Regions from separate parts of the Homo sapiens genome. Here regions 1, 3 and 4 are each linked to region 2. Evidence: fine-mapped expression QTL. A gene starts in region 2. Each other region holds a variant in brackets. All regions are shown on one strand. Distances are from middle to middle. Region 1 overlaps ZC3H3 (zinc finger CCCH-type containing 3). Region 2 holds the start of ZC3H3 (zinc finger CCCH-type containing 3). Region 3 overlaps ZC3H3 (zinc finger CCCH-type containing 3). Region 4 overlaps ZC3H3 (zinc finger CCCH-type containing 3).

Region 1 (2,679 bases), 38 kb after region 2:
GTGAGGCCCAGGGGGCTCTGAGTGTTGAGGGAAGGCCCTGGGGGTCTGTGTGTGAAGGCCAGGCTGACCCTGCCCCAGGATGCACATGAAGGTCCCAGGTGCTGGGAGTGGCTGAGCATCTTGGGTAGGGTGTAGTTGGGGGCAGCGCAGTGCAGCGTGAACCTGACAGCCCGTCCCTGCCTGCTTGTACCATGCGAAATGGGTAGGGTCTCTAGGCTTGATTGTGGTGGGGTGTTCAGGACAGGGCCTGAGCTGGAACCCCAAAGACGGAGGAGGGGGCAGGACCTCTACCACCCGTCCTGAGAGGAATGGGACTGGGCCCTGCCCAAGGTGGGGACAAGAAACAGTAACACAGGCTGCCGCAGTGAAGCTTGCACAGCTCTGCTGCTGACAACAGCCCTCACCTTGTCCTCTCTCTGACCCTGTCCCTGGGACCTCCCCTGCCCTCTTTTCCCGTCCCCTCCCCTTGGCTGTGATGCTCATGGCGGGGACTGCACCGCCCTGAGGAGGCACGAGAAGGGGCCCCTCTCCTGGCCATGAGCCCCCAGGACCCCTCTGCAGTTCCTCTCAGCTTTCGGTTGGAGAGCCCCAGGCCCTGAGCTATTGGCCCTAGCTCTGCCCTGGGCACTGGGGAGGGCTCAGGGTGATTAGGCCTGTTCCCTCCTCTGGGAAGCTCTAGAAACTCCCCTTCCCTGCAGCCCGAGGGAAGGAGGGTAGGCAAGTGAGTGCCCGGCCTGAGTCTAGGCCTCTGCCCTGTCCCAGGGGGTGATTTGGCACACGCGCCCTCTCTCTCCCCCTCCTAATTTAAGTAGAAACTTACTGTCGGCCTGGTGGTCATGTTGGGCCCATGTGGAAGGCTGGAGGACAGCGTCAGGGCCCGTTGATGGCTGGGTTTGTAATAGGGGCTGGGGCCTCTCCTCCCTGTCAGCGGCTTTCTCTGGACCTGAACATGGAGGAGGCGGTGGGGAGCCAGCTGGGTGCTGGAGGAGGTAGGTGGTCGGGAGATGGCTGGGTGCTGGAGGAGGTGGTCGGGGGATGGCTGGGTGCTGGAGGGGATGGTGGTGGAGCC[G/A]GCTGGGTGCTGGGGGAGGTGGTGGTGGAGACAGTTGGGTGCTGGAGGAGGTGGTGGTGGAGACAGTTGGGTGCTGGAGGAGGTGGTGGTGGAGCCGGCTGGGTGCTGGGGGAGGTGGTGGTGGAGCCGGCTGGGTGCTGGGGGAGGTGTTGGGGAGATGGCTGGGTGCTGGAGGAGGTGGTCGGGGGATGGCTGGGTGCTGGGGGAGGTGGTCGGGAGATGGCTGGGTGCTGACCAGTGGCCTCAGGTTTGTGGCCGGCCAGTGCTCGTCGTTGTCAGATGGAAGGCAGAGGCTGCTGGGCAGTAGCTTCTGGGGCTTCTGTGTGCTGCCAGCCAGGGTCTCTGAGGATGGGCACACCATTGAGGCACACGCCAGACATCATGTGTGGAGACTGGGGTGGGGCAGAGGGTGGGAGGAGAAAAGGAGCAGTGCCTGTATGCCAAGGGCAGAACGGGACTCCTGCCTCAACGGGTGGCATCCACGGTGCCACCTGTGCTCCCATCAGAGGCCGCGTTGCCCTGGCCTGCAGATGCCCGGCCATGTGGCTGCTTGGGGCGGGGCAACAGCTGACGGGGGCATGCTGGCGGTGTGCTGGCCATGTGCCACCTCTCCCCAGAAGCTGAGGCATGGGACTGGGTTGTTCTGCTGAGCGTGGTGCCCGTCGCATCTGCCAAATACACAGGACGGGGCTGTTGCTCTGGCTCGGGGACCCTGGGAGCTTACTGTACTGCTGCCTTACGCATACCTCGGCCATGCCACAGTGGTCCCTGAGAGCCGGCCTTGGCCAGCCCTCCCCCGGGCCCCAGGACTGCTGCCTTGAAGTGAAGCCTGTCCCAGAGGGCCTGGAATGCAGGGGTGCGAGGCAGAAGGTCAGTGAAGGGTTTTGGAGGAGTCACCCTGAAGGCTGAGGCTCTGCTGAGGGGATTTAATTTTTTTGTTGTTCTGAGATTTGTAGATTTGCCGGTGCCCTCACCAGCTCCAGCAAGTTCATTAATCTGAACTGAAGCTGAAATGTGACTTATATCCCTAACTGCTTGTCACTTTTTTTCTCTTTCCAAATTCATTTGACATGAAAGTGCGAAATAAACAGAAGCTGCTGTGCTTAAGCAGATGAATCGGAGGCTTTTCCATCTGACTACAAATGGTCCTGTCACGAGGCTGCCTCTCACTGGGCTGCCTTATTTTATTTTATTTTAGTTTGTGTCTGTGCGGTAAATCTTAAGTAATCTGTGCAGTTTTGACGAGAGTTAGGCCAGGATTTTGAAGGGCTCTGAAACGCTTCTCCAAAGTGGCGTCTCATTAAAGAGGAATTCAGCCTGGGGACGGGAGGGGTCCTCACTGCGATGCTGCGCTCCCCACGCGTGTCTCCTTAATGAGCAGGTGTGCCTGCACAGCCTCCTGGGACGCCAGCCACCCTGCCCCACCTCCTGCCCGTCTTCTGGTTTGGGCACTGTCTTCGTCGGCTGGGGCCGTGTCACACAGTAGCACAGACTGGGGCTTCAGCATCAGACGCTGACTTCTCACAGTCCTGGGCCGGACGTTTGAGACCAGGTTGCTGGGCAGACTTGGTGTCTGGCAAGGGCCTTCTTCCGGGTTTACAGACAGCTGT
Region 2 (2,679 bases):
ATTTCCTTCCATTTTAAGGCTGAAAAATATTTCATTGTTTGTATGGATCACATTTTGTTTATCCTTCCATCCACCCGTGGACACTTGGGTTGTTTCCGTCTTTTGGCTATTGGGAAAAATGCTGCAGTGAACATGGGGGCACAAATATGTTTGAGTCTCTGGTTTCCATTCTTTTGGGAATATAGCCAGAAGTAGGGTTGCTGGATCATACCGTAGTTCCATTTTTGTTTTCTCCTAGAAAGGCAGATTGCCACATGCAGCGCCTCATTTGGATGTGTCTGGAATCTTGACTACCCTACCTTCTCCTACAAATGGACCTTGAGAGCTTGTTTGGAGGTTCTACCAGGGAAGCCCAGCTCTTCTATTGGGTATGGTCGTTCTCTTCGACTGAGCTGCAGCTTCGGGAGGGACGCACATGAAGCAGTGAGGAAGGAAGGGGACACCCGCCTAGCCAGCCAGATCAGCCGAATCAACCCTGGCGATCAATGGGATGACAGGTGTCGCAGCCAGATCGCCCTCATATCCGGTAGTTCTACTTTTAACCTTTTGTGGAATCTCCATAGTTTTCTGCGGTGCTGCGCCATTTACATTCCCACCAACAGCGCACAGAGGTTTACACTTGTACATGTTTCCAATGACGAACTAAAAACTTTCATGTTTTCAGAGGTTCAACATGTCTATCCAGGGAACCTTGCTCTCCGATGTCTTCTCCTCTGGCCACAGTAAGAGGTTTCACAGACCCTCCTGGGTCAAGAGTAATTGTTAACTGGCCCTTCTCCCATGGGTCCCCGCGTAGACCCCCCCCCCCCCAACACTCAACTGGGGCGAAATGAAACGCAGGGACTGTGGGAAGGAACTGCGGTATGGGCTGGGTGGGCCCCAGGTCTCGCCCCTCGCCAAGTCTCCCAAGGGGACGCGATCCCGGACTGCACAAGCTGGGCCCGCGCGGCCTCCCAGAGCCCAAGCAGTCCCTTCCCAGCCGTTACCAGGCCACTTCCCGGCGCTCACTAGTGACGTCCCCGCCTCGTTCTGCGCGTGCGCGGCTCTGCCTCTCCGCTGCCGTTGTCAGCGCGACGGCGGGTCCTCGGCGGTCGGCAGACATCCGGGCCTGCTCCTGGCAGCTCCGCCCTGGCCCGCTCCGCCCCGCCCGCGGGAAAAAGGTCGCGTAGCGATGACGTCGTGGGGGCCTGGCCGGCCGTCGCGGACTCGGGAGATGGAGGAAAAGGAGATATTACGGCGGCAGATCCGCCTACTGCAGGGTAGGTCCGGCCGGGGCCGGGACGCGAGTCCCCTTCTTTCCCCCTCACCTCGCGGCGGGTCCCCTGCCCCCTTGTCGAAGGGGTCGCTCACCGCCCGCGTGTTCTGGGTGGCGGCTGGGGTGGGGGACGGTAGGGTCCGCCAGGACTTGTGGGCCGGCTCAGGGCCCGGGTCAGTCCCCGGCTCCAGCTTTGTCGAGGGAGTGGTGCCGGCCCTGCTGGGGCTGCAGAGGGTGGAGGCAGGGCCGTCGCTTAGTAACCCGCGGGGGGCGGCGGCCCTCCCCACCACCGCGGGCTGTCGCGTCCCCCGGCGCCCACTCTCTCCCCGCGCCCCACTGCGGGGCTGGGACTAGTTCATGGCTCATTTCGGCAGAGCAGGCTAAGGGCGCACGCGGGTTCCTTCCTTGACGCCCGGTTTTTTTTGAGACAGAGTCTTGCTCTGTCACCCAGGCTGGGGTGCGGTGACGCGATCACGGCTCACTGCAATCTCCTCATCCTGGGTTCGAGTGATTCTCCTGCCTCAGCCTCCGGAGTACGTGGGATTACAGGTAGGCGCCAGAACGCCTGGCTAATTTTTGTATTTTGAGTAGAGACGGGGTTTCACCATGTTGGCCAGGATGGTCTCTAACTCCCGACCTCAGGTGATTCACCCGCCTCGGCCTCCCAAAGTGCTGGGATTACAGGCATGAGCCACCGCTCCCAGCCTCGACGCCCGGTTTTGATGCCCCTTTTCTCCGAACAGTCACACTCCCCTTGCCATTCCAGGCGCAGACTGAACAGGCTTCAGCTTCCACACTTAAACATTAAAAAACCCAAATTGGTCTTTCTAAACTTAAAAAGAAAATCCATGTTCGGACGCAGTGGCCCACACCTGTAATCCCAGCACTTTGGGAGGCTATGGCAGGAGGATGGCTTGAGCCCGGGAGTTTGAGACCATCCTGGGCAACATGACGAGAGCCCGTCTCTACAGAAAAATTTTAAAAAGTGAGATGGGCGTGGTGGCTTGCGCCTGTAGTCCCAGCTACTCAGAGGTGGAAGGTTTGCTTGTGCCCTGGAGGTCCCGGCTGCAGTGAGCCGTGATTGGGCCACTGCACTCCAGCCTGGGCAACAGAGAAAAACCACATCTCAAATAAAAAGCCAAAACCAACCAAACAAAAAAAAGCTTTAAAAATTAAAAATCCTTTTTGCTTTTACTCTCACAAAGGGAAGACTTAAGGATTGGGAAAGTGTGTATGGATAAGAGGCCAGGTGGGCTGCCTCCCACTTGGGGACACTTCTTGAGCTCCCATCACACCTGCTCTGGGGCGTCAACACGTCTGGACGTGGCTTTCTGTGCCCCCGGGGGCAGGGCCTGTGGTGGGGGAATGCTGATAACTGGGAGGCTGGCTGCTGCCGCCCTTGCCTGTGTTCCTGGCCCTCCTGC
Region 3 (2,679 bases), 88 kb after region 2:
CTACTTAGGAGGCTGAGGCAGAAGAATGGCGTGAACCCGGGAGGCGGAGCTTGCAGTGCAGTGAGCCGAGACTGCGCCACTGCACTCCAGCCTGGGTGACAGTGAAAGACTCCATCTCAAAAAAAAAAAAAAAATTATGAATTGTTGGCCAGGCACGATGGCTCACACCTATAATCCCAGCACTTTGGAAGGCCAAGGTGGGCAGATCACCTGAGGTCAGAAGTTCAAGACCAGCCTCGTCAACATGGTGAAACCCTGTCTCTACTAAAGTTACAAAAAAAAAAAAAATTACCTGAGTGTGGTGGTAGGCACCTGTAATCCCAGCTACTTGGGAGGCTGAGGCAGGAGAATTGCTTGAACCCGGGAGATGGAGGTTGCAGTGAGCCGAGATCACACCACTGCACTCCAGCCCTGGGCAACAAGAGTGAAACTCCATCTGGGAAAAAAAAAAAAAAAAGAAAAAGTTATGAATTGTTTATTTCTGGAATTTTCCATTTAATATTTTTGGACCACAGTTGACTTCAGGTAACTGAAACTGCAGAGAGTGAAACAGTGGAAAGGGGAGGACCACTATATAGCTTTTGTAGTGCTTACCTTGGGTATTATATTATATTTGCATGACTGATCCACGTCTGCTGGTGGTGTCGTTTTGCCAGTTTGAGTGAAGTGTGGAAACCCTACCTTCCCTCATCTCCCTTAACCTCCCCTTTTATAACCATCTGGAATACTTCCTCTACAGAAGTTAGAACCACAACAGACACAGTTATAATTTTTATTTCAGTCATCAAACATAATTTTAAAAACTGGGGAAGAGATGGAAAGTCTGGTATGTTTATCCATATTTTTGCTTATCTTGTTCTTTATTCCTTCCTGTTGTGCCAAGCCTTTTTCTTTTGTTTCCTTTTTGTTTGGAGAACTTTAACCACTTTTTAGGGTAAGACTGCTGGTGACATTGTTTTTCTTCATCAGAGAATGTCTTGATTTCCCCTTTATTCCAGAAGGATAATTCACTGAATATGGGATTCTGTGTTGACAGTTCTTTCTTTTGAGCTTGAAGAATGTTATGCCTCTTCCTTATGTCCTCCATGGTGTCTAGTTAGAAATCCACTGTTGTTTGAATTTTTCCCCAGTGGGTAAAATGTGG[T/C]TTCTGTGGGGTGCTGTGACTCGTTCCTGTAATCTCAACATTTTGGGAGAACCAGGTGGGCAAACTGCTTGAGCCCAAGAGTTTGAGATTAGCCTGGTCAACATGGCAAAACCCCATCTCTTTAAAAAAAAAAACAAAAAAACAAAAATTAGTCACACATGGTGGCATGCGCCTGTGGTCCCAGCTACTCAGGTGGCTGAGTTGGGAGGATTGCTTGAGCCCTGGAGGTCGAGGCTGCAGTGATCTATGATTGTACCACTAGGCAAGAGAGTGAGACCCTGTCTCAAAAAAACAAACATAATGTAGTTTCTCTCTGGCTGCTTTGAAGATTATTTCTTTGTCTTTAACTTTCACTGTCTGACATCTGGGGTAGATGTCTTTGGTCTATCCTGTCTGACATCTGGGGTAGATGTCTTTGGTCTATCCTGTCTGAGGTTTGCTCAACTTCCTGAATCTATAGGCTTATGTGTTTTACCAAATTTGTAAAGTTTGTATTATTTCTTTGAGTTCTTTTTGCTCTGTTTCTGCATCTCCAGTTACATGAATGTTAGGTCTTTTGTTGTGGTCCCAAGGTCCCGAAGGCTCTGTTCATTTTTTAAACCTTATTTTCTTTCTGTTGTTCAGATGGGTTAATTTCTGTTATTCTGTCTTCCAGTTCTCTGTCTCATCCATTCAGCTGTTGTGCCACACACTGAGTTTTTTATTTCAGTTATTGTATTTTTTAGTTCTAAAATTTTCATTTGGTTCTACTGTATCTTCTTTTTCTCTGTTGATACTTTCTATTTCTTCTGTTTCCAGCATGTTTGTATTGCATGTAGAAGTGTCTTTGTGATGCTGTTCTGTCTTTATGAAATAATTCTGACGCCCTGTCTGTCAGCGTTGGCGCTGCCCCTCTTCACCGAGCTTGGAGCCTCCCTTGTTCTTAGTGTGAGCAGCCACTTTCTGTGGGAGCCTAGTCATGCTGGCTGTTGGGTGGAGGGGCTGCCTCCTTCTTGCCAGCTAGGAGTGGAAACCCAGCTCCCTGCACTTGGCCTCATTGACACTGTGGAGGGTGGTGTGGAAAACAGACCTTCCCTGAACCTTCCCTCCCTGCCTTGGGGGAAGGAGTTCCACAGTGCCTCTTCCACATGGCCTCCACTGACTCCGTGGGGGATGGAGAAGGGGTGAATGTCCTGGCTTTTCACCACCCCGGCAAGGAAGGGAAGGGCCTCCTGGCCAGGGTTGAGTCCAGGCTCCCTCCTCAGCCTTTGCTGATCTGGCTGGGGGTGCAGTGGTTTTGCGTGTTGGCTGGAATAGATGGCTGTTGCCCGAGACCTTCTGTCTTGCTGGGCTGCCCTTTGCCTGTGCCTCTGGGCATTTCTGGGCTGTGGCTTCCTTGACTCCAAGTCTTGGATGGGGCAGGAAGCAGCCCAAGGGCACCCAGCACCAGTCGTGCCCCGATCCCTTCCATCAGCACCTTCTCCGCAGCCAGAGGTGGCTTGGGTTTGTTACGGTGGCACTTAGCGGGAAGTACAGGGATGGTAGGTTGGTACTTT
Region 4 (2,679 bases), 58 kb after region 2:
AGGATTCCTGGCCAGCCTGCCCCTCAGTAGCTGGCACAGACAGAGTGGGTCCTGGGCCGATGACCCAGCCCAAAGGGTGGCACAGGTGCAGAGGGTCGCGGGCCCGCCAAGGACAGCTGCACCTGGCCGCCTGGCACCTCTGCCGGACGAGCTGAACTCGGCACTCCGGGGCCATGAAGTCCCACTAATACTTGTTTTTTTGCAGCTGACATACAAAACACCAATAGCTTCAGCTGAAATGGATTTTTAAAAGTGTCATTTTATGGAGAATTTTACTTTCCATCTTGTTGTTTATTAGGCTCTTAAAGGGAAAGCTTGTAATGCATCCATTGATCGAAATACCAATTGAATAGATGTGAGCACATAAAATACATAAAATAGTCCCAGCCCCTCATAATGGAGCACGACGTTTGTAACGGAGGCAGTGTCATTAGTATTGCCCCCTGCCACCCAGCCAGGCTGCAGAGGCGCCTCCGAATCCTTCTTATTCATTACTGGGGTGAGACGGGGCAGGGATGGCCCTCGGAAGGACCAGTGCCCAGTGAGGAAGTCCTCAGATGTCACAACAGAGCCTCCACCCCACGAGTCAGCCCAGGGGCCGGGGGAGCCAGCCGTGCTCAGCCTCAGCTGGACCAGTCGCACTCAAGGCTGTCCCTGTCCTCAGGGGCCCCCAAACAAGGCTGCTGTCCCTAAGGCTGCATGGCTCTTTCCCCTCATGGCGCCCCTGGCCGCTGGTGCAGGGCTCTCAGCTCCCACCCAGGCCTGTAACCCTGCCTGCCTGCTGAAGGTGTATCCTGGAAAGCCAAGCGGCTGGACGGTCTCTGCAGGCCCCCATACTGGGAGGTAGATGCTGTGGGGGTGACAGCGGGACTAGAGAGCCCATCTGGCCATGGTGCCGGAGCCCCTGCTGAACAGCAGCTACTGCCCCAGGTACCTGGAGGCCCCTTGGAGCTGGTGAGGGCCCCACGGTCTGGGTATAGGGGTTTGGAGGATAGGGGGCCAGACTTGTGAGGAGTAAGTTAGAAGAGGGTTCTTTCTGTGAGATGAGGTGGCCATAGCCATCGTGAGGCCTGCGTGGCCACCACGTAGTCAGATTTCAGCCCTGGCAGCCACAGGCCCTTGAGCATTTAGCCCTGCCCCTGAGATCGTGGGGGCAGGGTCCAGGAGCCGGGAGCCCGCCTAGCACCCCCACTGCACGCCTCTGCTCTGTCTGGCCTGAGCGCCCCTCCCTGCCGGCCCAGCTTGGGCCCCTCCCA[T/C]GAGGGACTCTGTCTTCCTCCTCCGGAACTCAGGACATTCTGTGAGTGTCTGTCCAGTAGAACCACCTCCCCTGCATTGCCCCAGCCTCACGGGCTGGGCCTCTCCAGCCAAGGGCCCCATGTAGCCTGGCCAACCCATTCGGGGGCCGCAGTGGCTCAGCACCAGGAGAAACCGGGAGGGAGGCTTCCAGCCAGCCCCACACGCGCACACGCATGGACACACATGCATGCTCGCCCTCCCGAGCCAGCACGGTGATGGGGGTGTCAGCGTTTCCAGTGGAAAGCCCCACTTAAGCAGTTTAGTGCCTGTCATGGCGCAGCTCTGCCTGACCTACTTGGGGATTCGCTGCGGCGCCGCCTCCCCCCGGCCGCTCCTCTTCTGCTGACTTCGCACTCCCCGCTCGGGCTCCAAGCTTCGAAAAATTGTGCTCCATTTCCTGAAAATGCTTCTCCGGTTGTTTTCTCTGTGTCTCAGCTGGACTGCCTGTTTACTGCACGTTGCCACTGGCCTGGGCGGCCTGGCCAGGGGCTGCTGGGTCCCCGGCCCACACACAGACACAACCCCGGCCTAGAAGGCCCTGAGGTCGTGTCCCCGTGGCCCGGTACCTGCTCCTGTGGTCCTGCCTCTTCTGGCTGCTAGGGCCGGGCCAAGACCTCGCTCAGCCCTTGGCCTCTCCTGCTGTCACCATACTTATGCCCCCGAGGGTCTTTCCACGTCTGCATATTGCACGTCCCTGTGTCACGTCCGTAGCAGCCTTGCCATCGTCCTGGGGAGACAGGGACAGGCTCGCCCTTCTCGGAGCTCTCAGGGCATGTGTTCTGACCATGCCTCCCTCCTTGAGCCCCGCTGCTCCCTTTGTTCTCAGAGAGCCCATCTTGCCCCAGCCCGCATTCCCAGCGCCTGGCCCTTGCTGCCTGAGCCCACTCCTTGTATCTGCTGACCAAGCCCTGGCAGCCACCTCTCTGCCACAGGTCTCCTTCCTGAGTGTCTGTAACTGACCAGGGCCTCCTGACCCTTCCCCACCCCACACTCCTCCCTTAGGACCTCTTAAGGTCCTGGGAGCCCCAGGGTGGCACACACTTGGGTGTGTTCTCGCAACACACATTTACAGAGCCCCCTGCGTGCCCGGCACATCCGCAGGGCCAGGGGTGCAGCAGTGGTCTTTGCAGATACGGCCCCTGTGCTCATTTTCCCCAGTGGTAAGTAGGGCCGGCCTCCCCAGTGCTGTGACATCTGCACTTGGCCTCAGGCCTGCCCTGGGATCTGGACAGAGGGACAGCACGTGCAAAGACCTGGCGCCAGGAGGGAGCACAGTGCTTTCCAGAAACCAGAACTTCCCAGGAGAACTGGAGTTCTAGGCTGGAGAGAGGCTGCATGGGGGCTGTGGCCAGCAGGACCTGAGTGCCTGGCCCTGCAGGGCTT

What was found. PIP is the estimated chance that this variant, and not a neighbour inherited with it, causes the effect. A credible set is the group of variants that fine-mapping cannot tell apart.
Region 1: its variant is the best candidate, but not a certain one, in a credible set for the expression of ZC3H3 in subcutaneous fat (GTEx, PIP 0.85).
Region 3: its variant is the best candidate, but not a certain one, in a credible set for the expression of ZC3H3 in whole blood (INTERVAL, PIP 0.88).
Region 4: its variant is the best candidate, but not a certain one, in a credible set for the expression of ZC3H3 in nasal epithelium (TOPMed, PIP 0.62).

The regions. Positions count from the first base shown.
Region 1 is chr8:143,502,101-143,504,779 of GRCh38, reverse strand. The region is part of intron 4 of ZC3H3 (zinc finger CCCH-type containing 3); the gene reads left to right. Among named protein-coding and RNA genes, the nearest start is that of SNORD149, 2.8 kb to the left of the region's middle. The variant G/A (reference allele first, on the strand shown) is at 1,070.
Region 2 is chr8:143,539,956-143,542,634 of GRCh38, reverse strand. ZC3H3 (zinc finger CCCH-type containing 3) reads left to right here and starts at 1,188. Exons shown (of 12, transcript NM_015117.3): 1 at 1,188-1,259. The coding sequence starts at 1,214. It also overlaps the pseudogene RN7SKP175.
Region 3 is chr8:143,451,858-143,454,536 of GRCh38, reverse strand. The region is part of intron 9 of ZC3H3 (zinc finger CCCH-type containing 3); the gene reads left to right. Among named protein-coding and RNA genes, the nearest start is that of MAFA, 22 kb to the right of the region's middle. The variant T/C (reference allele first, on the strand shown) is at 1,145.
Region 4 is chr8:143,482,088-143,484,766 of GRCh38, reverse strand. All of the region lies in intron 4 of ZC3H3 (zinc finger CCCH-type containing 3), which reads left to right. Among named protein-coding and RNA genes, the nearest start is that of SNORD149, 23 kb to the left of the region's middle. The variant T/C (reference allele first, on the strand shown) is at 1,257.